Homo sapiens: one gene and its partners. The protein of the gene in region 2 purifies or fractionates together with the protein of the main gene of each other region. This does not show direct contact. Each region holds a gene or a part of one and is shown on either strand. Other genes may lie near its edges.

Region 1 (6,213 bases), on a different chromosome or scaffold from region 2:
TTTGGTCAGTATTCAGAGTAGGATCCAGAGTTCACACATTACATTTGGTTGACAAGTCTGTAGATTTCTCTTTGTAAATCACATTTTTTTGTTGTTGTTATAGCCTGGGGACCTTAATGACTTTAATACACTCTTTTTTTTGGAGACGGAGTCTCACTCTGTCCAGGCTGGAGTACGGTGGTGCAATCTTGCCTCACTGTAACCTCTGCCTCCTGGGTTCAAGCGATTCTCCTGCCTAAGCCTCCCAAGTAGCTGGGATTACAGGCGCCTGCCACCACGCCTGGCTAATTTTTGTATTTTTAGTAGGGACGGGGTTTTGCCATATTGGCCAGGACGGTCTCGATCTCTTGACCTCGTGATCTGCCCGCCTTGGCCCCCCCAAAGTGCTGGGATTACAGGTGTGAGCCACCACGCCCAGCCTCACATTTTTATTTTAAAAACCTCTCCAGGCTGGGCGCAGTGGCTCACGCCTATAATCCCAGCTGTTAGGGAGGCAGAGGTGGGAGGACAGCTCGAGCCCAGGAGTTCCAGATCTTCTGCCTGGGCAATATAATATAGCATGACCCTGTTCTAAAAAAAAAAAAAAAAAAAAAATCTCTGAAAAAGATGATTCAAAAAAAAAAAAAGGAGAGGCCAGGCAAGTAGCTCAGGCCTGTAATTTCAGCAGAGGCCAAGCTGGGAGGATCACTTGAGTCCAGGAATTAGAGACCAGTCTGGGCAACATAGCGAGACCCCATCTCTATTTAAAAAAAGAGAAGGGGCCGGGCACGGTGGCTCCCGACTGTCATCCTCGCACTTTGGATGCTGAGGCAGCTGGATCACCTGAGGTCAGGAGTTCGTGAGGCTCCGGCGTTTGTATTTCATTTGAATCTAAAGTGAGCAGCCACAGGGACCCGCAGCTCATCAGACCAGCCTGGGGTTCCAGGCCAGGAGGGCAGTGGTTTGCTCCAGAGCCAGCTGCTTGTGGGTGTGGGACGGTGGCGACGCGTGCACCGGGGATGTGTCCTGCCACCAGAGGAGGTGTGCGTGGCGGGGAGCAGAGGGGCTTTGTTTCCCAGGTGAAGGTGCGGCTTCTTCACTCTTAGAGGTGCGTGTGTGGGTGGGGGTGCTTGCTGTTGAGGTTTATGCCTGTGACTGACAGCTGTCCCCCAAGCCATGCTGGCAGTGTGTAGGTGTCGTGCCGGCCACCGCAGAGGAATCCTCTGGGCTTCTGTGGTTCAAGTGGGGCCCAGCGCAGAGCTCCATGAGTTGCTGAGCAGCCAGCCCTGCAGCATCTCCTGGTTTTGGCAGCAGGAGGCGTCCCCTGTGCATTCAGGGGCTGTGGGGCTGGGGCACTCGCAGCAGGAAGGAGCCCTGCTCAGGCCTGCGTGCTCCCTTTCTGCAGAGGGAGACGCTGTTGCGGCAGCTGGAGACGAACCAGCTGGACATGGACGCCACGCTGGAGGAGCTGTCGGTGCAGCAGGAGACGGAGGACCAGAACTACGGCATGTATGTGGCCGGACCCGCCCGTGCGGGCGGTGTGGGGGCTGCGGGCGTGGCCGTGGTGCAGGGCCATGGGCTGCACCAAGGAGACAGCAGAGGGGAGTGTCCCCTGTTTGGGGTAAATTAGTCACCTTTGGGCACGGGTGGAGGAGGACTCAGGTTTGCACTGCCCCCAGCAGCCCCCCCACAGTCACCCCTGGCGTGGACTCCTCATACAGGTCATGCTGTGCCTGCCACTCTGAGTACCGCTGACCGTGGCCAGGTGCTGGTGCTCATGGAGTGCTGCTGGGGCTGCCTGCCCATCAGGGGCTTGGCCTCCCAGATTGATGCCAGCATGGGGTGTGCTTTCTGGGGAGCTGCTTGACTTTGGGAAGCTCCCTGTGTTGAAGAGGCATACAGGCCAGGACATGGAGGTCTCTGGTCCTCGATAGCAGAGGGCGGCTCAGAGCATCCTCCTGAGTGGGCCTGGGCAGTGCATAGCCCCGGGGTTGCGGCCAGTGGGACAGCTGGCCCGTTCTCTGCCTCAGGCTCCTGTACAGCTAGGGGCTTGGTGCCTCCCCTGGGACCCAGGCAGGGACCACGGAATCAGTGGCCCTCCTGAGGCCCCCCAGGAGGTCTCTGTTTCCAGAAGGAGAGCCCTGTGGGTCACCTTGGATCTGGCTGTTGGCTCAGACACAGCAAGAGACCGAGAGGGAAGGCAGTTTGATGCCTGGAGAGGGACCCGTGGCTTCCAGCTGCCAGGCCAGCCCCAGAATGGAGCCCCCCGCATGGGCGCTTCTCTGTTGAACCAATCCTGGCATTTCCTGGGCCTGAGAGTTGGGTCAGCTGGATGCTGCGATGGCCGCACGTGCTCCACCAAGCCCCAGCCCCCTCCTCTTCCCAGAAACCCCCGCTCACGGGAAGGTCCAGTTGCTGCCATCTGGCCACCTCTGCATGGAGCCCCCAACAGCTGTGCCTCAGAACAGATCCGAAGTGACTTTCAGGGGAGCTGGACACATGTACGCTGGTGCCTGCTGTCCCCACCCTTTGGCACTGCTGCTCTTTCTTTTTCTGAGATGGAGTCTCGCTCTGTCGCCCAGGCTGGAGCGCAGTGGTGTGATCTCGGCTCACCGCAAGCTCCGCCTCCCGGGTTCACGCCATTCTCCTGCCTCAGCCTCCCAAGTAGCTGGGGCTACAGGCACCCGCCACCACACCCGGCTAATTTTTTTTGTATTTTTAGTAGAGACGGGGTTTCACTGCGTTAGCCAGGACGGTCTCCACCTCCTGACCTCGTGATCTGCCTGCCTTGGCCTCCTACAGTGCTGGGATTACAGGCATGAGCCACCGTGCCTGGCTGGCACTGCTGCCCTTGGAAGTGGATGGGGATGATGGCCTCTGTGGGGCGGGTGGCCCAGAACACAGTGGCTCTTCCCAGCCCCAGCAGCAGCAGCAGAGAGCCCCCTGTCACCTGAGGGCCTCAGGGAGAGGCAGGGGAGCCAGGCTTCTCACCCGCCTTCTGCCTTTCAGCTTCCTGGAGATGATGGAGGCTCGCAGCCGTGGCCATGCGTCCCCACTGGCGGCCAACGGGCAGAGCCCATCCCCGGGCTCCCAGTCACCAGTGGTGCCTGCAGGCGCTGTGTCCACGGGGAGCTCCAGCCCCGGCACACCCCAGCCCGCCCCACAGCTGCCCCTCAATGCCGCCCCACCATCCTCTGTGCCCCCTGTACCACCCTCAGAGGCCCTGCCCCCACCTGCGTGCCCCTCAGCCCCCGCCCCACGGCGCAGCATCATCTCTAGGCTGTTTGGGACGTCACCTGCCACCGAGGCAGCCCCTCCACCTCCAGGTAGGCCCTGGAGCTGCCCCTCCCAAACTGGTCCCAGACCCCCAGGCCCTCACAGGTGGGGTCCTGGATTTCGGAGCGCTCCACGCTTCTTCCTGCTTGTCCCAGTCCCGTGGGCACATCCCGGGTGGGCCTGGCTTGGGGTTGGGTGCAGTGAGGGTTCTGGTGCCGAGTGAAGAGGACCCGGCATCACTGTTCACAGAGCCAGTCCCGGCCGCAGAGGGCCCAGCAACGGTCCAGAGTGTGGAGGACTTTGTTCCTGACGACCGCCTGGACCGCAGCTTCCTGGAAGACACAACCCCCGCCAGGGACGAGAAGAAGGTGGGGGCCAAGGCTGCCCAGCAGGACAGCGACAGGTGAGGGGTGGGCCTGGGCCTCCTCTCCCATTGCCCCCCAGCCTCCAGGGTGCCCGAGCAGCAGGTGGGGCTGGCTTTCTAGGGGCGCAGAAGGGGCCCCCCGCCGGCTGGTCACTGTTGGCTGAGGACAGAGCAGCTCTGTGGCTGGAGCAGACGAGGGAAGGGCTTGGACGGGGCTTCCAGACATCAGAAAGGCCTGGCCACCTGCTCTGCCCACACCCTGGAGAGGACAGGGGCACCTTGGGGTCTTCTGTGGGCAGATGCCACATGGAAGCCATTGGAGAGGCCACTGCAGGTCATATGGGAGGTTCAGGCCACCAGATGTGGTCTCCACAGGGCCAGGATCCAGGTGCTGCAGAGACAGGGGCGGCTTCCTGCAGGTCCTAGAGCTGGGAGCTAGAGCCGCCTCCCCAGCCATCTGCCAGCCCCTCCCACCACTCTGTCTGCCAAGCTGCCCCAAATTTTGCCTGCAGCAAAGCCCTGCATTTGGTCCCAGGACAGCCCTGGACAAGCTCCACCCACAGTGGCCTCAGCACCTCAGCCTCACCCATTGCTGTGGGGCAGCGGCTTCCTCCAGAAATACACAAAGGACAGAAAGCCCCGTGGCCCTGAGCTGGGCCCGCCTCCTCCACGAGCGCCCACTTGTGCGGCTCCACATCCTTCACCCACTGAGCGGCCGCAGGGCAGCACTGTGTCCAACCTTGTGCCCCCGACCCCTTCCTGCTCAGAAGCCCTGTGACCATGAGGGGGCCTCTCCACAACACAGCACCTGGGGTGGGGTGGCCCCACGGCCAGGGTGTGCTGGGTACCAGGGCGCCTAGAACCAAGGCCCGTGAGCCCGGCCAGCCATCCCTACCCCGTGGCCCTTGACCGCTTTGCCCCCTGCTTTGCAGTGATGGGGAGGCCCTGGGCGGCAACCCGATGGTGGCAGGGTTCCAGGACGATGTGGACCTCGAAGACCAGCCACGTGGGAGTCCCCCGCTGCCTGCAGGCCCCGTCCCCAGTCAAGACATCACTCTTTCGAGTGAGGAGGAAGCAGAAGTGGCAGCTCCCACAAAAGGCCCTGCCCCAGCTCCCCAGCAGTGCTCAGAGCCAGAGACCAAGTGGTAAGGGCAGGTGTCCCCACGGGTGCGGCCTGGAGACCCGGGTGGGGCAGTTCAGGACGCCTCCAGAGGACCCTGACTGACCCTCTGCTTGTCCACAAAGGTCCTCCATACCAGCTTCGAAGCCACGGAGGGGGACAGCTCCCACGAGGACCGCAGCACCCCCCTGGCCAGGCGGTGTCTCTGTTCGCACAGGTCCGGAGAAGCGCAGCAGCACCAGGCCCCCTGCTGAGATGGAGCCGGGGAAGGGTGAGCAGGCCTCCTCGTCGGAGAGTGACCCCGAGGGACCCATTGCTGCACAAATGCTGTCCTTCGTCATGGATGACCCCGACTTTGAGAGCGAGGGATCAGACACACAGCGCAGGGCGGTAAGACGAGTCCTCCCGGGGCAGAGGTCAGCCAGGTGGCCAGGGTCCCTCCCACAGGCCTGATCTGGGTGGGTGCAGTGGGAGGAGGCTTCTGGAAGAGGCATCTCATGTCCCCACACTTGGGCCTTGCCGGCCTGGTTTGAGATCCCACAACCCCTGGGGGTGTGGGAGGGATGATGGCCTGACCAGTTGCTCTCCCTGCTCCAGGATGACTTTCCCGTGCGAGATGACCCCTCCGATGTGACTGACGAGGATGAGGGCCCTGCCGAGCCGCCCCCACCCCCCAAGCTCCCTCTCCCCGCCTTCAGACTGAAGAATGACTCGGACCTCTTCGGGCTGGGGCTGGAGGAGGCCGGACCCAAGGAGAGCAGTGAGGAAGGTGGGTGGGGGCACCAGAGTGCGGTCAGCCTGCTGGAGTTTGGGTAGAACGTGGGCCTCCTCCCAGCTGCTGGCCGCTGGCCGGGGTCCTCTCCTGAGTCCAGGATGCTGTGCCATGCTCCTGGCAGCCCCCTGCAGGAGCTGATGTTTGCAGTGTGGTCCTGTCCATCAGCAGGGCCTCCTGGAGGGCTGGGGCTCGCTGCTTTGTGAGTTTCTAGAGAAGTCCTGTCACCCAGCTTGGGGTCCCCGTTGGCCTGAGTTTGAGCCACTGTCTGTCCTGTCTGTGCAGGTAAGGAGGGCAAAACCCCCTCTAAGGAGAAGAAGAAGAAGAAGAAAAAAGGCAAAGAGGTACTGGCTACTCCCCTTCCTGGCAGGCCAGGACTGGGTGGCATGCGGTCCTGGGACCAGGGCTGTGGCTTCCTGTGACTCCATGGCGCCCCATCCTTGTGCTCCTCAGGAAGAAGAAAAAGCTGCCAAGAAGAAGAGCAAACACAAGAAGAGCAAGGACAAGGAGGAGGGCAAGGAGGAGCGGCGACGGCGGCAGCAGCGGCCCCCGCGCAGCAGGGAGAGGACGGCTGCCGATGAGCTGGAGGCTTTCCTGGGGGGCGGGGCCCCGGGCGGCCGCCACCCTGGGGGTGGCGACTACGAGGAGCTCTAGGCCGGCGTGGGCAGTGGCCGCCCTGGGGCGGGGGGCGTGCCTGTCACT
Region 2 (5,051 bases):
TATGTATGCAGGAGTTTAGGGAGGAAGATATGGTGCTGGAATAATTGATAGCCTCGATTGGTTTGAAGAACATTGAAAGTAAACAAAATGGATTTCTATAGTGGAATTTGTAAAGCACCTTGTGTATTTGCTTTGATGATCATATTAACTTTGTGGGACATCTATGACAGGGATTTTTTTTTTTTTTGAGAGAGGGTGTCACTCTGTCATCCATGATGGAGTGCAGTGGCATAATCTCAGCTCATTGAAGCCTTAACCTCCTGGGCTCAAATGATCCACCCACCTCAGCCTCTTGAATAGTTGGGACTCTAGTTGCATGCCACCATGCCCAGTTAATTTTTGTATTTATTTATTTTTGTAGAGATAGGGTTTCACCATGCTTCCCAGGCTGGTCTCAAACTCCTGGGCTCGAGTGATTCACCCGCCTTGGCATCCCAAAGTGTTAGGATTACAGCGGTGAGCCACTGTGCCTGAACATGACAGGGATTTTTGCCTCCATTTTACAGATTAAAAAAATGAGGCTCAAAAAAATTAAAAAATTAATCAATTAGTTATTTTAAAGACAGAGTCTTGCTCTGTTGCCCAGACTGGAGTGCAGTGGTGCGATCATAGCTCTTTGCCGCCTTGAACGCATGGGCTCAAATGATCCTCTTGCCTCAGGCTCTCAAGGAGCTGGGACTACAGGTACATACCAGATAACTTCTCAAACTTTTTTTAGACATATGGTCTTCCTATTGTGTCCAAGCTAGTTTTAAACTCCTAGCCTCAAGAGATCTTCCTGCTTCAGTCTCCTAACTGAAAGAATATTTTTTTGATAGATGGTTATCCAGGAAGTCCTTTATTAGCACTTTTAATTATTATCACAAGTGGCAAAATATTTTTGGAAGTTTGAATACTAATTTACTCTCATTTGGTCATGAATATTGACAGTTTATAAGTAAGTTATTCAGCTTCTGCATATCTGAAACAAGGTGGCTAATAAATCATTAACCACTAGCAAATCTGTAACCACCTGATACACTAAACATGGAATATATTTCATGGTGCATATTTCCATTTGTTGCGTACTGATGGAGTTGAGCCGTATATAGTGAGAAATGTTATTAACCCTATCCATACCTTTCTTTTTGGGGGGCTCTACTGCAGTTTATATTAATCCCCCTCACTATAGATGAACTGCAATGGTCTGTTATAAGTTTAAATCAGATTAGTTTCTACCTTTTAGGTGAATGGAGCAAGAGTATCACCTTGGTTTGTTTTAGTGATTATGATTACTTTTTTCAATGCCATTTTTCACACTCAAGCATACCAAAATTAAACATTAAATGCCATTATCATGAGTTCTGAATATAAACACTTGAGGATAGGCAGAATTATGATTTGTAATTCTTTGTACTGTATGTTTTAGATGTTCAAAAGTACTCTGCTTATTAAAAATTAAGTTTGTGACTCTTATAAGAAAGCAAATGATGAGGTAACTGTGAAGAGACCAGAATTTGTCTTCACATTGCTGGATGTCCCTTTCTTGACTGCTGTGCTTCCTACTTCCAAAGAAAGTTCTAGACCTGGAGTATCATGTTAGTGCCCTGAGGAAATGTAGTTTCTGTAAGGGCCAACTTTCTTCCATCTCCAAAGAAGAAAAAGAGTCAGTTTTCCAAATATGTTTTAATATGCATATCATCCAGGCAGCATAATGTTATATTTCAAAGACAGATTTATCCATTGAATTATTGTTTTTAAAAGTTGGGATTCTCTACATAGAACATATTTTCTGAAATTTCAAGAATATTTTCAGGTAAATTAAGAATTAATTTCTTCTAAGACTATCCAATGTGTCTCAATCTATTCCATAATATAATCAATGATAAAGATTCACATGTATCACCAAATTCGAGGCAGCTTAGTTGAAAAAATTTGAAACAGCTTACTGAATTCCTGGAAGAAAATAAAACACCTTTTAAATGTAGGTAAAAAGTATATTTAACATAAATATCTTTTACTTGAGATCCAAGTTTCTTTTGCAGGATTAGGAGCATCCATATCATTCTTTAGTTATCTCTAAGGATATTTGGTTCTAGACATTTTCACATGTTAAGCAATTAACTTTGCTTGTGGGTGCAAGAAAAGCTTATTTTTGTCACATTTCTTAGGTTCCATCTAAGAACGGCAGATGGGTTTATCTGCTCTGCTAGCTATTACTAGTGCCTGCTATTACAGTAGGTAATCACTAGTGGCTGCTTGCAGTATTACAGTAGGAAGGTTCTGAGGCTCCATCAGTGAGTGGAGACAGGGTCATGATGAACTGAAGTGTGTCTCCTATAGGCTTCTATGTGCGTGTGTGTGTATTGGGGCAAGGAACACATTCTGCTTTCAAGTATTTTCAGTTCTGACCCAAAATGGAACATGTGTTATGCCAACAATTAAAAATCTTTCAGGCCAGTCATGGCGGCTCATGCCTGCAATCCCAGCTCTTTGGGAGGCCGAGGCAGGCAGATTGCTTGAGGCCAGGAGTTCTAGACCAGCCTGGGCAACATGGCAAAACCCCGTTTTTACAAATAATACAAAAATTAGCTTGTATGGTCAGGTGCGGTGGCGCACTCCTGTAATCCCAGCACTTTGGGAGGCCGAGGTGGGTGCATCACTTGAGGTCAGGAGTTTCAGACCAGCCTGGTCAACATGGTTGAACTCTGTCTCTATTAAAAATACAAAAATTAGCCAGCTGTGGTGATGTGCGCCTGTAATCCTAGCTACTGGGAGGCTGAGGCATGAGAATCGCTTGAACCTAGGAGACGGAGGTTGCAGTGAGCCGAGATCATGCCACTGCACTCCAGCCCGGGCAACAGAGCAAGACCCTGTCTCAAAACAACCAAAAACACTCACACAAATTCTTCCTTCAGTGTTAATACCTGGGGGTTGGTGGCTGAGTAAAAATATTCCCTCATGTTGCTGGAGTTAACTGTGAGTGAGTAAAGGGGCTTCCTAATCTTACTAAGATCTGCATTTGTCAAGGCAAGACAAAGAACTCCTCTTTTCCATTCTGCAGATGACTTTTATAGCCAAGAAGCATGTTCCAAGCTAGGAGAATTTACCATTTGCTGATTCTGTGGTGGCTTCCTCGATGGCATGTGTGCTCCTTTGGATGCCTGCAGGGGTGGTCACTGCAAAGTCGTCATCTGTGCCACTGGGAGTTGGGAGGCGGCCTGCTGGGGTTCCCTGGGTGGCAGGATTTACACCTGCTCCTCCTGCTGGAAGGCTTCCATCCTGGACATCTGGATTAGCCCCTGCCTGACTGGTGGGCAGGATGCCTCCCGGGAACAAGGAATGGATGATGAGGCTCGTGAAGATTTGTGGCTGGAATGAGGGAAGCAAACAGAAAACAAAGTTAAAAGCAACACATTTTCTTTTCTCTTTTAAGGGGAGCAAGTTTGGGTAGGAATGGAAAGATGGAGAGAGTAAAGTCAGAGAAGACAGCAAAGACCTGGCATTCCTCAGGGGAAATACACCCTTGGTCCAGCCTAGTCTGATTCAATACTGGGACTCTTTGCTATGCTCCATTTCCCTCAGAAATAAATTACATATTATTAAACCTAACATGTAATCTTTCTTTTGCTCATAACATTTTTTCAAAAAATAAGAGCATAAAAATTAATGGAAAAATTGATTCAAGTAGATTAATCCTGATGGCTTTCATCCCTTCAAGTTTTTTTGATGTATTTTTCAAAGGCATTGGAATACTTAGTTAGAAACATTTATCCTGGCAATTCAGCTATTGTATGTTCCTTGAAGATACATAAAGAATTCCTGTCTATTGGAGTTTTTCATTTTTAGAGAGATTCTGATCGAGCAGGTCTGGAGCAGGACCTAGCAATCTGCCTTTTTAACCAGCTTTTGATGCCATCCTGATTTGCTGGGCAAGGAATGAAGTTTGGGAAACACTGTGTTACATTTAAGAGATATTGAAACCAGAATTAGACTTACGCTGGATGACAGATAGGAGCAGAGTACAGACGTTTTCAAACTGAGGGTTGTGATATCCACAGTTTTGAAGTAAAAAAGGTGAGTGTCAGTCATCATTAAACAATAAAACAGGCAGTAGACTAGTAGTGCATTCTATATAGTAAAGGTGAATGCTGTTTCGTGAATGTGTGTGTGTGTGTGTGTGTGTGTGCTAAGCTGCATGAAAAATGTAGTTGCTATTGTGAGTTGTGTTAAAAATGTTTGAAAAACCACTAGTGTAGTAGGTTAAAAAATGGCATTGGATCTGGATCCACTCTTTTCTTCTCATTGTTGCCTTTGAGGCCTAAATTACTTAAACTTTTAACCTCAGTTTCTTTATCTGTAAAGCTGGGTCAAAAATATCTGCTTTGTGCTTTGGGGAAGGTTGAAAGCAACATATGTAAAGGATCTGCTAAAGTGCTGGTTATATAGAAGAACCTTCAGTAGCTGGATATGGATGTTCATGCATCAATGTTGGCAAAACAGACACTAGCCCCATTCCTTGATGATTATTTATGGACAATATAGAAAATATCTACATTTTCCATAATAGAAAAGCTGTTGAATAACTGTGTTCCCAAATATTGCCTCAATTCTGTACTGTTGTCATGTTTAGATATCATGTTAATTCAAGTCCTTTTCTCTAGAAAAGGACCTATGGAGGAATGCATAGAAGTGTTTAGCAATGGTGATATGAACTATATTTAGGTACAGCCCTCCAATTATTTATGTGTGTAGGAAAGAGTTCATTTATCACTATCTGACGCTGGAAAAAGATATATTTTTCCATAAAAATTAAATATCCAAGTCAAGGAATTTAATCTTTCCTGTAAAAAGTCAATATTTATGTTATTCTACATTTGCATACATTTCAATAGTTTATAATCCTAGACTGAAATCCTTATGAAGTTAAAAAATGTGCACTGCCTTTCTGGATAGAACTGAATCTGATAGCAATAAACGGAAACAAAAGCTAAGTCAAATTAATAGAAAAGTAGCTGGAGAAGTATAATGAAATCCCCAAACAAAGAAAGGATAATCTAATGTAAGGAACT
Region 3 (6,213 bases), on a different chromosome or scaffold from region 2:
AAATGTAGTATAAAATTACCTTCATGCTATATGTATAGGTTGTATATGAAACATAAATGAATTTCATGTTTATACCTGGGTCTTATCCCATCTCATGTATAAACAAACTTGCTGAAATCTAAAAAAATCCCAAATGGGAAAAAATCCAAAATCCAAAACACTTGGTCCCAGGCATTTTAGATAAGGGATATTCAACCTACAGTAAATATTTATGTGTGATAAATATTAGATAAAACTTCAAAGGGCTTGTTTATCACAATTCTTCCTCTTCTTACTTTTCTTATCTAATTCTTTGGTGTTTCTATCTGAAATACAAAGTGTGCTATACTTTCATGTTCCCTCATGTGCTTATGTAGGGAAATCAGAATTTTTCTTTCTGATAAATGGTTTATGAATTCAGATGATGGCAATGAGGAAAATCATGAGTCTATACAGTCTAAGAAATTTCAGGACATTTGGATTAAGGATTTTTTTTAAAAAAAAAGATACTATGAATCATCCTTGGGCTTCTACCTGCATATTCATGCCAAATTATGAAACTATTATTTCGTCTTAGAGAGTGGTAGAATACGTAATATATTATAGTGATTATTTTTAAATGCTTTTTGTAAAACTCAGTTGCATTTTAGAAAATACAAATTTGTACAACTTTTAAATAATATTGTAATCCAAACATAACTTTAGAAAAATATATATATGCGTGTGTGTATACGTATATATTTCATAATGTATTTCAATGGAAACGTTGAGAGAAGGAAGTCCAAACATATGGCTCTCATACATATATAATCCAAACGTGTAATCCAAACTATATATAATATATAAAATAATGCATTTCAAAGGAAATGTGTGGATGTGTGTGTGTGTATATATATATATATATATATATACACGTATGTGCCATGCTGGTGTGTGTGTGCCATGTGCCATGCTGGTGTGTGTGTGTGTGTGTGTGTGTATATATGTATATACGTATATATATACATATATACATATATATACTTATATTATATGTATATATGTATATATAAGTATATTATATATACATATATTATATATATGTGTATATATACGTATATTATATATGTGTATATATACGTATATTATATATGTGTATATATACGTATATTATATATGTGTATATATAAGTATATTATATATGTGTATATATACGTATATTATATATGTGTATATATACGTATATTATATATATATATAAAGCATTTCAATGGAAATGTCTTGTGAGAGAAGAGAGGAGTAAGTAGCTTACGAAATAGGAAAATCACTTTTTAATACTTTTATATTCAAACACTATAAGAAAGAACAGCATTATTAGATCTAAATGAAAATAAAAACACACACAAAAAAAACAAAACACAACAACAAAAAGAAACCATGAGTCTGAACCCATGACTTTGTCAGTAAATACGCTTTTCCAGCTCTTTCACTCAAATGGTGAGCAGCCTTCATGGCACTTCAACTGCATTGAACCTCAAGCACACTGATTCTTGACTTTAATCAAGTAAACATATATATTTACTCTATACTATATATTTAATAGAGTAAATGAGCCAGAGTTTCATGAGGAATAGCTGAGCTCCTTTTGGAGCTAAGATAACTCAAGACAAGCCCAGAACGTCTTGTCAGAAAGCAAAAATATTTTAAAGTTATTGGGAAGGATTGTTTAAAAAGATTGGGTTAAAGAGATATCTACTGGCGAAGCTATGACACTTTGAGCATCAAAAAGAAAAAGAAACACAGATCCATGGGAATGCTTAAAAGAGACACACAGATGGAAGCCATAAATTGAGCCGGGATTCATTTAAAATAGAAATGTGTGATTTATGGTGACAAGGGTCGAGTGTAGTAATGAGAAACCAACTGAAGCAGGGGAGAAGCTGAAAATTAATTTCCTAGAAGACATTTACAGAGGATTAAAAATGTGTGCAGATAAATTAGATGAATGTTTTTGTGTCTGTAGTTGCCTTTTCTCCTCTTACATGTTTCTTCATGCAAGATCATAATAGTAAGAGTTATAAAAAGTCACACATGAGAGTAATTGATGAGGCAGTAAAGAGTACAGAGCAAACTCCAGCAGAACAGCAGCTCTCTCAGTTCACCATGACTCATGAGCTGTTGACCCTGGCCCACCAGGCATGAGGTGCAGGGCAAGGAGACTTCAGAAGGTGTACCAGACAGGAGCTGAAAGATTGCTCCTGACATGAAAGCACACAGTAGGTAAGAGCCGTGTGTCTTCTGTTGCATTAAAATCAAGCTTTAGTCATAGGCATGGTGCCTGCACATCATTGTCTAACACATTGAACAGTGACAACTGTAAGGTTTTTTTCTTTATTTGTTTTATCATCAAATCAGCATCCTCCGTGCACAGGTGAGGACACTAGTGCCCACAGAGATGACATGATTTTCCCAAGGTCAGATCTTCGACCCAATCTTCTAACTCCCAGACCAAGGCTATGTTTCCATGATACCAAATCATCTCACTTGGTTCTGAAACATTATGCATTTTTATGAATGAATAAATTTTTATTTGTTGAATGTTTTTCAAGGGCTTTATATTTATTTATCAAAATACCCACTTTAAAATACTGAAGCTTCACAGTGATGTACTTTGAGCTATATTTCAGTTTGGTGGCTTCAGAGCAGTTCTCAACTGGAGACTGATTTTGCTTTTGAGGGCATTCTTTGGAAATATCTGGAAATGTTTTTGGTTGTCATGATGGGGGAGGGGTATGCTGCGGGTAGTTGTTGATGAGAGGCCAGGAATGCTGCTAAATGATGCATAGGACAGCCCCTCACAACAAAGATTTATCCAGCCAAAAATGTCAATAGTGCCAAAGTTGAGAAAACCAGTTGTAGAAGATCATCCTGAGTTTGAATCTCAGGTCCGCCATCTACCAGCACACAGTATGGTCACCCCTCCATAAAATCAGGGTAATATTCCCACTTCAGTGTGTCAATGTGAATATCAAATAAGATCATATTCTTAGGGCTTATCCCAGATCCTGAACACTGATTAAGTTCTCAGCAGATAGTTGTTACTATCATCTCATTAAAGTGTTGTATCCTATGTACTAGGTTGTAAACCGCTCTAGCGCTTGAAAAAAACAGCAGTCTAAGACTCTGTAGTTGTTCTCTAGCAATTAATATTTACTGAGCTATTCAGATAAAGGAAGGAATTATTCTAGCTTAAATTATCCCATAAATGGTTTTCCATATGACCTGAGGTATGACAGGTTACAACAGGCACCAGATTCCTCTGGCAAGCCCTTCAGAACTAAAATAATGGGAGGAATAGTGGGGCAAGAGGTGGGCACAGGGAGGTGGGGGCAGAAAGGGACGACATCAAGGCCTCTGCATGCAGCCTGGACCTGGCATCTCACCTGCTGTTGAGCTACTGAGTTTCAGTGGCAATTTTCTGAGAAGGGAGGGAAACGACCATTCCACTTCCCTATAAAGTGCTCCCAGAGCTGTGTGCACGGGTGTGTTAATAAGCACTCCCTGAAGGTGGCGGTGAAGGTGGTGATGATGACAATGTGAGGACTATTCAGGTAGGCTGCTATTATCTGGAATGTACTATGATGTTTTTGTGCCCCGGTAACCAGTGCTTAAACTGGGATGTCATTGGAATCTCCTTCTAACTCTCCTATCTCAACTGTATCTACTCAGGCAGTGGTTTTCAACCCTTCATGTGCACCTGGAGAGCTCATTAAAACCCAGAGTGCTGGGTCCAACACCCATAGTTTCTGATTCAGTACTTCTGGGGTAGAGCCCAAGCATTTGCATTTCTTTCTTTCTTTCTTTCTTTCTTTCTTTCTTTCTTTCTTTCTTTCTTTCTTTCTTTCTTTCTCTCTCTCTCTCTCTCTCTCTCTCTCTCTCTCTCTCTCTCTCTCTCTTTCTTTCTTTCTTTATTTTCTTTTTGTTTTGTTTGATCGTTTGTTTTCTGAGACGGAGTCTCGCTCTGTCGCCCAGGCTGGACTGCAGTAGCGCTATCTCGGCTCACTGCAAACTCCACCTCCCGGGTTCATGCCATTCTCCTGCCTCAGCCTCCCGAGTAGCTGGGACTACAGGCGCCCGCCACCATGCCCGGCTAATTTTTTGTATTTTTAGTAGAGACGGGGTTTCACCGTGTTAGCCAGGATGGTCTCGATCTCCTGACCTCGTGATCCGCCCGCCTCGGCCTCCCAAAGTGCTGGGATTACAGGCATGAGCCACCGCGCCCGGCCAGCATTTGCATTTCTAACAAGTTCTCCAGGCGGTGCTGATGATCCTGGTCTGGGAAACACACTTTGAGAACCACTGCACTGAGGGAAAACATCAAAGCTGCAGTACTTGGAATATTTCTGCTGCCTCTTGGCTCAAAAACAAGTACTGCAAGCTGTGTGCTTTCTTCACACCCAAAGAGGGCCTCGTGGAGATGTGTGAAGATGTGACACCTTGTGCCTCATGATGACCTCCATTAACATGGGGACCATTGCAACGAAATGTTCTCGTGGGAAAAACAATTTGTCCCAGTGATTAACTGCAAAAGCTGAGACTGACCTTATCAATCTGAGAGAGGGAGTCATCTTGAGCGCCCAAGCGGACCAGGGCCAGGGCAGCGAAGAGGCTCAGAGAGGAAAAGAACACATTTCCATTTCCTTGATTGTCATCCATCTCTCTGAACAGGTTGAAGCAAAACTCTGCATTTGCTGCAGCAAGGGAGGCCATTGCAAAATGGAGTGCAGCCTAGAGGACAATGAGAAAATGAAATTAGTTCCCGGTACATTTTCTAGGAATATTATATTTTTAGATTTATTTATTTTTTATAATTTAAAGCTTCATTTTTTTTCAGCCTTGGAGGTAATCATCAAATAACTCTAACAAAAAGGGAAAAGTTCCCTTGGCCCAGTATCCTTGTCACTAATACCCTAAAACTATCTCTTCTCGTTGGTGGACATTTCTGTCCTCAGTGGCCTGTGAGTGGCCTGTTTCCAACCCCCAAGCAGACACATTCATGGGGCTCACTATTTCTCAAATCACCCCAGATTTCTGAACTGAAATAGAGCAAAAGTAAATATTACAATATTAGACAGTCTATTTGAGGCACTACAGCCTTTGCTTTCTAAACCATCTGTAATTCAATACAATGTTAAATTTTTGAGGTTTAACACATCATTTTTAACCCATTCTTTCCATTAAGGCCTCTGTAAATTCTTAGAACAATCATACATTCTATTTTTTTTCAAAACTGTCCTAATTTTAAGTATTATGCATCATTGGTCCCATAAGTGCATTAATTTGTTTAAAACCATTTTCTGATTTTTTTGGAATGCAAAGTGTGATTATCAGAGTATGTATCAAGAACATGTACAAGACTTTTCAACACATAGGCCTATTTCTTCCTAGAGAACCCAGGGTGCAGTAACAAAGTGGAGATTATCTTCAAATTCATGATGTTGTTTCTGCAATACAGACGGTTGCTACCACCATGGAATTCTTCAGGGATCCACTTGGGTAATTTTTTTTGCAGAATTTCTCCTCAACTCAAATTGATCTCAAAATAGCAGTTGGGGTTGTCTCAGACTACATGAACTTACATGAATTCTCCAAATTATTCCTCATGAATGTCCAATGATATTACATCTGATGGTGTGGCAGGTGCCAGGTGTTGCAGATGCCAGGAGTCACAAACCCTTAGGGGACTTCATCCAAGTCTCAACCCTGTTGCTAATAGTTGTGTGAACTGGGTCAAGTCTTTAATTTCTCTGAACTTCTAAGTTTCATCTTGTTCAGTGAGATGATCTATGTACAGGATCTAGCATAGCGATTCTCAACAGAAAATCATGCTTCCTTGTACCTTTTGCTCCATAAGAAGAGCACACATAGGCATCTGGGGACTGGCATGTTGTGGGTGAGGAAGGGGGTCACAAGGAGGGAGAGCCATGCAGTCTGAAAGAAGAACATTCTAAAATTGCCATTGTGTTGGCTTTGTCACAGTTGCAAATACTTAAGGCCTTTTAAAATTGTAAATGAAATTAAAATAAGTTTTTTAACTTTTATTATGTCAAATGGGAGTTTGAGTTAAAAAATTAAAAAAAAACTTTTCTAGTACAATGCATGATCCAGAGTAGACGTTCAATGAGTTGAAGCTGCTGCATTTACTATTCTCTGTGAAGTGGTAATAGCCTGTTCTGTCCTAAAAGACAGCAAACA
Region 4 (5,615 bases), about 48 Mb from region 2:
TGACAGAGAAGTTTCAATTAATTAAGCAGCTGACAGATCTCCTTGTGAACACAACAAAGGAAATCCACATAAGAAGAGCCTCCGTAAAGTCCTTTGTCTTCTACCAGGAACTGTCGGAAAACCATTTCTGGTTGTTCTCGCTGCTTTACAATTGTGAGCTAGGAAAAAAAAAACAAAACAGTAACAGCCCCTGGTTATAAACATTATTTGAAAATGGGTCAATTTTGTCTATTTCAATTTTGGCAAACATTATTGAATGCCCATTATGTGTGAGGCTATGGAGGATGATGGGAAAGTGCCTGATATCTAGAGTGGAAAGAGGCATGGACCCCGAAACCCCAAAACCTAAGACATACAATTTTAAGTGGCAAAAATGAAACCTAAGCAGAGTGTTACGGGAAAGGCTTCACAGTGATAGTAACTGTCCCCTGAGCCTTAAAGGATAGGGGTAGGGCTAGAAAGTGTTCCATACTGGAATACATGTGCCATGTACCAGAGATACAATTATGGCTGGCATGTAAATTATCACAGGCTTCTTCTAAAAGGGACAAATTATCATCATAATGAGTTTGGGTTTCTGTAGGAAATGTGATCCAGTGAAGGTGCAGAAGAATGAAATGAGAGAGTTAAGTGGCAGCAGTATGTACAATACATTCGTGAGATGAGGGACACTAGATAGGAAGTGGTTTGAAGTGTCTGGGTGGGAGATGATCAGGTTCTGAATTAGAGCAGTGGAGGTGGAAAGGGGGTAGATTGGAGAGATGCTAGAGAGGTTAACACACAGGGAAAACAGGGAGAACTCCTGTCCTTTGCTCATCATGATTCTCTAGACCTGTGCTGTCCAGTACAACAGCCAGACACACATACTATTGAGCATTTAAAATGTGGCTCATCCAAATTGAGATGTGCTGTAAATATAAGATTTCTATATTTTCTATATAAGATTCTAGAAAAAAATAGATTTCTAGACTTAGTATGAAAAATAAAATATAAAAATATCTCAATAATTGATACAGATTACATATAGAAATTATATTTTAGATATACTGGGTTAAATTAATTATTTAAATGAATTTTTTCTTTTTAAATGCAGTCATCAGAAAACACAGAATTGCATATTCATTTGCATTACTGGAGAGTGCTGCTCTAAGAAGAAACCCACAGGGAAGAAGCCCAGAAGAGAGGCAGTTTTGTCATGAACACTTTGAACCCTTCTTTCTACACCTGTATTCCTACTTGAGGAAGTCAAGGTAGATGATCTGAATTGTCATAATTTCATATTTATTGCGCCACAAGTGGGGTTAACTGAGCCACACATGCACAACAATGCCTCTCCACCTGCCTCCTGTGTAATTAAGAGGAGCGAGGGTATTTCTCACTTCTTCCTCTCAGGAGGTAAACCCACCAGAAAGGCCTGCAATAGGGAAACACATGCAGTTAGCTGCTTCACCAGCTGCAGCAGGGAAGGTATGTGCAATTTTGGCTAGGAGGGCAGGGCCCTCCCTACTTTTGCATTCTATGCTTTTTAGTTATCAAGCAGAGAGTAACTCTGTCAACACCACTTGCTTTTTTCCTTTATAACGTTTCGGCCTGGATCCAAGTCTGTTAGGTTTTAAGTTGCCCCGACCTAGTAAAAATAATAATATATAAGAACAACTGCTGTTGCCACAACTCAGCTAATTCCATGTGGATACAGATATGTGTGATGCCTTGGCTTTTGGGTGTCAGCTCTAGGTACTGGGAGTTGGCACTGGAATAGCTGTGTGCATAGGCAGATTCCACTCCTACATGGGGAAGCAAAACTAACCCTTAATGAGATTTCTCCAAAGAAGTTTAAGATTTGCCTCCTGATGAACCTGAAGTCAGGATTCTTTTCATTTTATGTTTTATCCACCCTCTCCCACATGCCACTACAACTTTACTATTGTCCATGATTGGTAGGGGCAGTGTGGGTCTAGCCTCTGACACAATTCAGACTGAGGCTGGGCAGGATAAGACATTGAAGGAGGAAAGACTTGAAGTTCCAATTTCTTTAGAATTTACTTTCTTTATGGAAATTAATGGAAAGAAGGTCAGATTGCTCATCTGAGGTATTTTCTATTGCTGCCATTCACTTGGGTTTTTTTTTTTGTTTTTGTGTGGTGCTCATTGTACAACCTCCTCTGACAAAAGTGTCTCGCTATGAGCTGAGGTGGTAAGTAGAACAGGGAATGAATGTCAGCCTTGGGAGAAACTTAGCTTTAAGCTACAGTGATTAATATCCTATCCTACCATTTGATTATCTACAGGTGTCAGGATGACACAGAAAGTATAGTGGAAGGTCTCAGGGGAGTGGAGTCATGGAAGTGGTATTGGCCTGTCTTGACACAGTGATGGTCGTCTCTTCAAGGGGCACACCCACACCAATAAAAGGAAAGCATACTGGTATGGATTGGTAGATCCATCTTTATTTCCCCGCTTTACATTTCTAAAGGGAGGGGGATGGCCCTATAGAGTAGGAAGAGAACATTAAAATAATCACTGCTTGTCACCTCCTTGCTTCTTGTGTGCCTTCTCCAAGGGAAGACTGGCTAACTCTGAATGTGACATTCTCTGGGTCACCTTACCAGAGGTCTTAAAGAATTAATGTGCTTCAAAAGCCAATCTCATCTTTCATTGGCTGACTCACAGGGAATCGCTAAAGCATGGGAGTGATTAGGAAGGCCCAGGTAGAACATGTTGAGCGAGAAGAGAGCCATGATACAACCCTCGGGGAATACCAACTCTTAAGTGGCAGATGAATGAAGAGAAGCCTATGAAAAAGAGTCACTGAGAAAGAAGAATCAGGAGCAGGGGATGTTTTGAAAGCTGACAGGAGAGAATTTGAGGAAGTAGTCAACCTTGTAAATGCATAAAAGGATTGAGAATCAATTGTCTTTAGCAATTTGGCAGTTTACAGAGAAGTGGAGAGATGAGAAGAAGGAAAGAGCAGTTAATATAGACTTTTTCAAGGAGCTTGGTTGTAGAATGTTTGGTATATTGCCGGTGTTCAATAAATATTTGTAGAATGAATGAGGAAAGGGAAGCAGAATCTTGGAGAAGTGGCAGCTTCTATGAAGGTAGATTTGAACAGCTTGTAAACTGGAAAAGGGCCAATGGGAAAGGAATAATCTAGAAAATACAAGTGGAAGGAGAGAGAATAAAAAACATTTGGAGCACAGAGAACTGTGCAGGGCAGGACTAGAATTTCTCAGGAAGGCACTTGGTTTCGGTCATCTGTAGATATACTGTGGTAGAAATCTTTTTTTGTTGTTGTTCCCCACAGAGAATAATCTGACAATAAGGTCTAAGAGGACTGTTTTTGAAAAAGTAATTAGCATAACCTGGAAGGTAGCAGTTCCTTCTAGATTTGATTTTGTTACTCTTGATCCTTCCATACCAACTCTTTTCTCCTACCTAATCTTAACCCTTTAAAAGTATGTTTTCATTTCCTTTGTTTAGTCAGTTTTCAAGTGTCAGAGAAAGGGTGGAATGCTAAGTGCACTGGGACTAAGCAGCTAGTACAAGCCCTGTATCTGCTATGATCCAGTTGTGAGACCCGGACCAAGCTAGTGAGCTCCTTTGAGCCTCACTTTCATGTCTGTGATGTGCAGCTACAGGAAGCCAGGTATCTCCCAGATTCCTTTCAACTCTGACATCTGTAGATTTTAGATATTTCTAATTCTTTATAGAGATAGCACTCTATGAACAGATGGATACATTTGCAGATAGTACATAAGAAAATCTGATTCTTTAAGTATTCAAGCTAAAATTGTTTTATCACACAGGTGCTTAATATTTTATTCACATATAATATTTGAAGCTCACCCCCAGATGGTTTTATAACCAAAGCTGACATAACTTTGATAAGTGGTTGGAACAGGTGGGAGAAAGCAGAGGAAAGTTTAATGTTTTTCCCTGAAGGAGGAACTACTGAGCACAAGGATGATCTCCATGCTTAGTCTTGCCTCTTTTCTGCAAATGCCCAGTTGGAGGGATGCAGTTGCTGCAGCTGGGATGAAGGTGAATCATTATTGCTGTGCATTCTAAATACCAGTGGCTTTCAGTTTGCATTTCCTGAGACTCAAGATTTGGTTACATGTTTCTAGGGCATTCAGAGAGAATGCCCTAGAAAAACGTGTAACCAAATCTTAAGAGAATGTGTTTAGTTTGAGCCTTGTCTGTCATCTCTAGGTCCTGCCCTTAAACTGAACCATAGGTGCTGTGTGGTGTGAAAACTGTTCTAGAAAAGTTGTGTATTCATCCAGATGTCATTAGTTCAATTTACCTAAGCTCTACCTAAAGTTGATGTTTGCATGCATGAGTTACTTTCACAGTTACGAATGTTGGTTCAGATTGACATCACATTTACATTTCAGGAGACAACTGGCCCCATAAATACCCTGGCACTTGTAGACACGTGCCTCCAGCTGAGTGTCTTATAGCTCTTCAGTAAGCAGTGTTACACAGCACATCATCATCATCTATACATTCTAGATCCCAGGAGACTCTAATATTGAGCTTGGGAAGGAAAACAAGTAAGTATCTGGAACGTGGCAACAACATATAATTTTCTTGGGTTCTAGACATATTAAAATTTTTTACTCAAACTCAGAAAAGGCTAGAAGGGCTTGGAAGGACAAGAATAACAAAACTTTTCAGAGATTATAAATTAAACATTGTAATAAATCAAATTTTACAAATGTTCTAAATGATACTTTTATAATTAAGTAATTTTAGGCACCAGAAGAAAAGTCACTTCAAAGTCTGTTAATGGTACCAATTGCTATTAAATCATGAAGTTAATACTGACTTAAGATACCCCATAGTTAACCCATGGTAATAGCCATTTATGTTTGTGACTGGTAAGTAGGTAGATATACTTAGAGGTTAATGTGAGGTTTTTTTAACTTTTATTTTAGATTTGTGATGGTGTGAGTTTTTAAAATCAAAGATCACGTCATAAAAATATAGGGTGTGCATGTTAAGTCTTTAATGAAATTTTTAACATTTGAATAAAGGGAAAAATAAAATTGCTTTCTTACCTTCATTGAATATGGCCTCTTTTGTTGGATAATACCCATTATCATTCTGAGTTGTTGAGAGTATGGGTTTCCCACTTCAGGCAGCAATGTCTTAGATTTAAGAAAATCAAAGTTTTAGTACAGTTTATAACATTTAGATAGAAGTAGCAATATGAGATTATCATAATGTTAAAAACATAAAACCATGTACTTGAACATTGGTGTAGTTCATTACCTGAAAACCAAAACTGTGGGGAAAATGCACTAAAAATTATTGGCACCCATTCCCATAATTGACAGAAGACAATTATTTCTGTCTTTTGGAAAAAACTCTTCCTCTGGAATTTGACACATGTACATCACTGAAATGATACAGCACAGACGTAGTCAGCCCTCTGTATCCATGGGTTCTGCATCCATGGATTCAGCCAACCACAGACAAAAATATTATTTGTAAAAAATGCATCTGTACTGAAAAGGCATGGATTTTGGGTTTTTTTTGTCATTATTCTGTAAACAATATAGTTTAACAACTATTTACATAGCATTTTATATTGTATTAGGTGTTATAAG

Evidence for each region.
Region 1: the proteins of AMTN (region 2) and RABL6 purify together in Homo sapiens (affinity purification with mass spectrometry; one large-scale study listed by BioGRID and IntAct). This does not show direct contact.
Region 3: the proteins of AMTN (region 2) and SERPINB7 purify together in Homo sapiens (affinity purification with mass spectrometry; one large-scale study listed by BioGRID and IntAct). This does not show direct contact.
Region 4: the proteins of AMTN (region 2) and SEC24D purify together in Homo sapiens (affinity purification with mass spectrometry; one large-scale study listed by BioGRID and IntAct). This does not show direct contact.

Annotation. Positions count from the first base shown.
Region 1 is NC_000009.12:136,834,358-136,840,570, forward strand, and holds part of RABL6 (rab-like protein 6), read left to right. Parts: exon of another isoform or gene 1-62; intron 63-1,384; coding exon 1,385-1,488; intron 1,489-2,988; coding exon 2,989-3,305; intron 3,306-3,504; coding exon 3,505-3,658; intron 3,659-4,551; coding exon 4,552-4,764; intron 4,765-4,864; coding exon 4,865-5,129; intron 5,130-5,336; coding exon 5,337-5,508; intron 5,509-5,796; coding exon 5,797-5,855; intron 5,856-5,964; coding exon 5,965-6,165; 3' UTR 6,166-6,213. UniProt on the Homo sapiens protein: May enhance cellular proliferation. May reduce growth inhibitory activity of CDKN2A.
Region 2 is NC_000004.12:70,529,339-70,534,389, reverse strand, and holds the end of AMTN (amelotin isoform 1 precursor), read right to left. Parts: intron 3,352-5,051; coding exon 3,090-3,351; intron 1,936-3,089; coding exon 1,925-1,935; 3' UTR 1,647-1,924; downstream 1-1,646. UniProt on the Homo sapiens protein: Is a promoter of calcium phosphate mineralization, playing a critical role in the formation of the compact, mineralized, aprismatic enamel surface layer during the maturation stage of amelogenesis.
Region 3 is NC_000018.10:63,780,888-63,787,100, reverse strand, and holds part of SERPINB7 (serpin B7), read right to left. Parts: intron 4,747-6,213; 5' UTR 4,729-4,746; coding exon 4,561-4,728; intron 1-4,560. UniProt on the Homo sapiens protein: Might function as an inhibitor of Lys-specific proteases. Might influence the maturation of megakaryocytes via its action as a serpin.
Region 4 is NC_000004.12:118,723,498-118,729,112, forward strand, and holds part of SEC24D (protein transport protein Sec24D), read right to left. Parts: intron 5,154-5,615; coding exon 5,064-5,153; intron 159-5,063; coding exon 18-158; 3' UTR 1-17. UniProt on the Homo sapiens protein: Component of the coat protein complex II (COPII) which promotes the formation of transport vesicles from the endoplasmic reticulum (ER).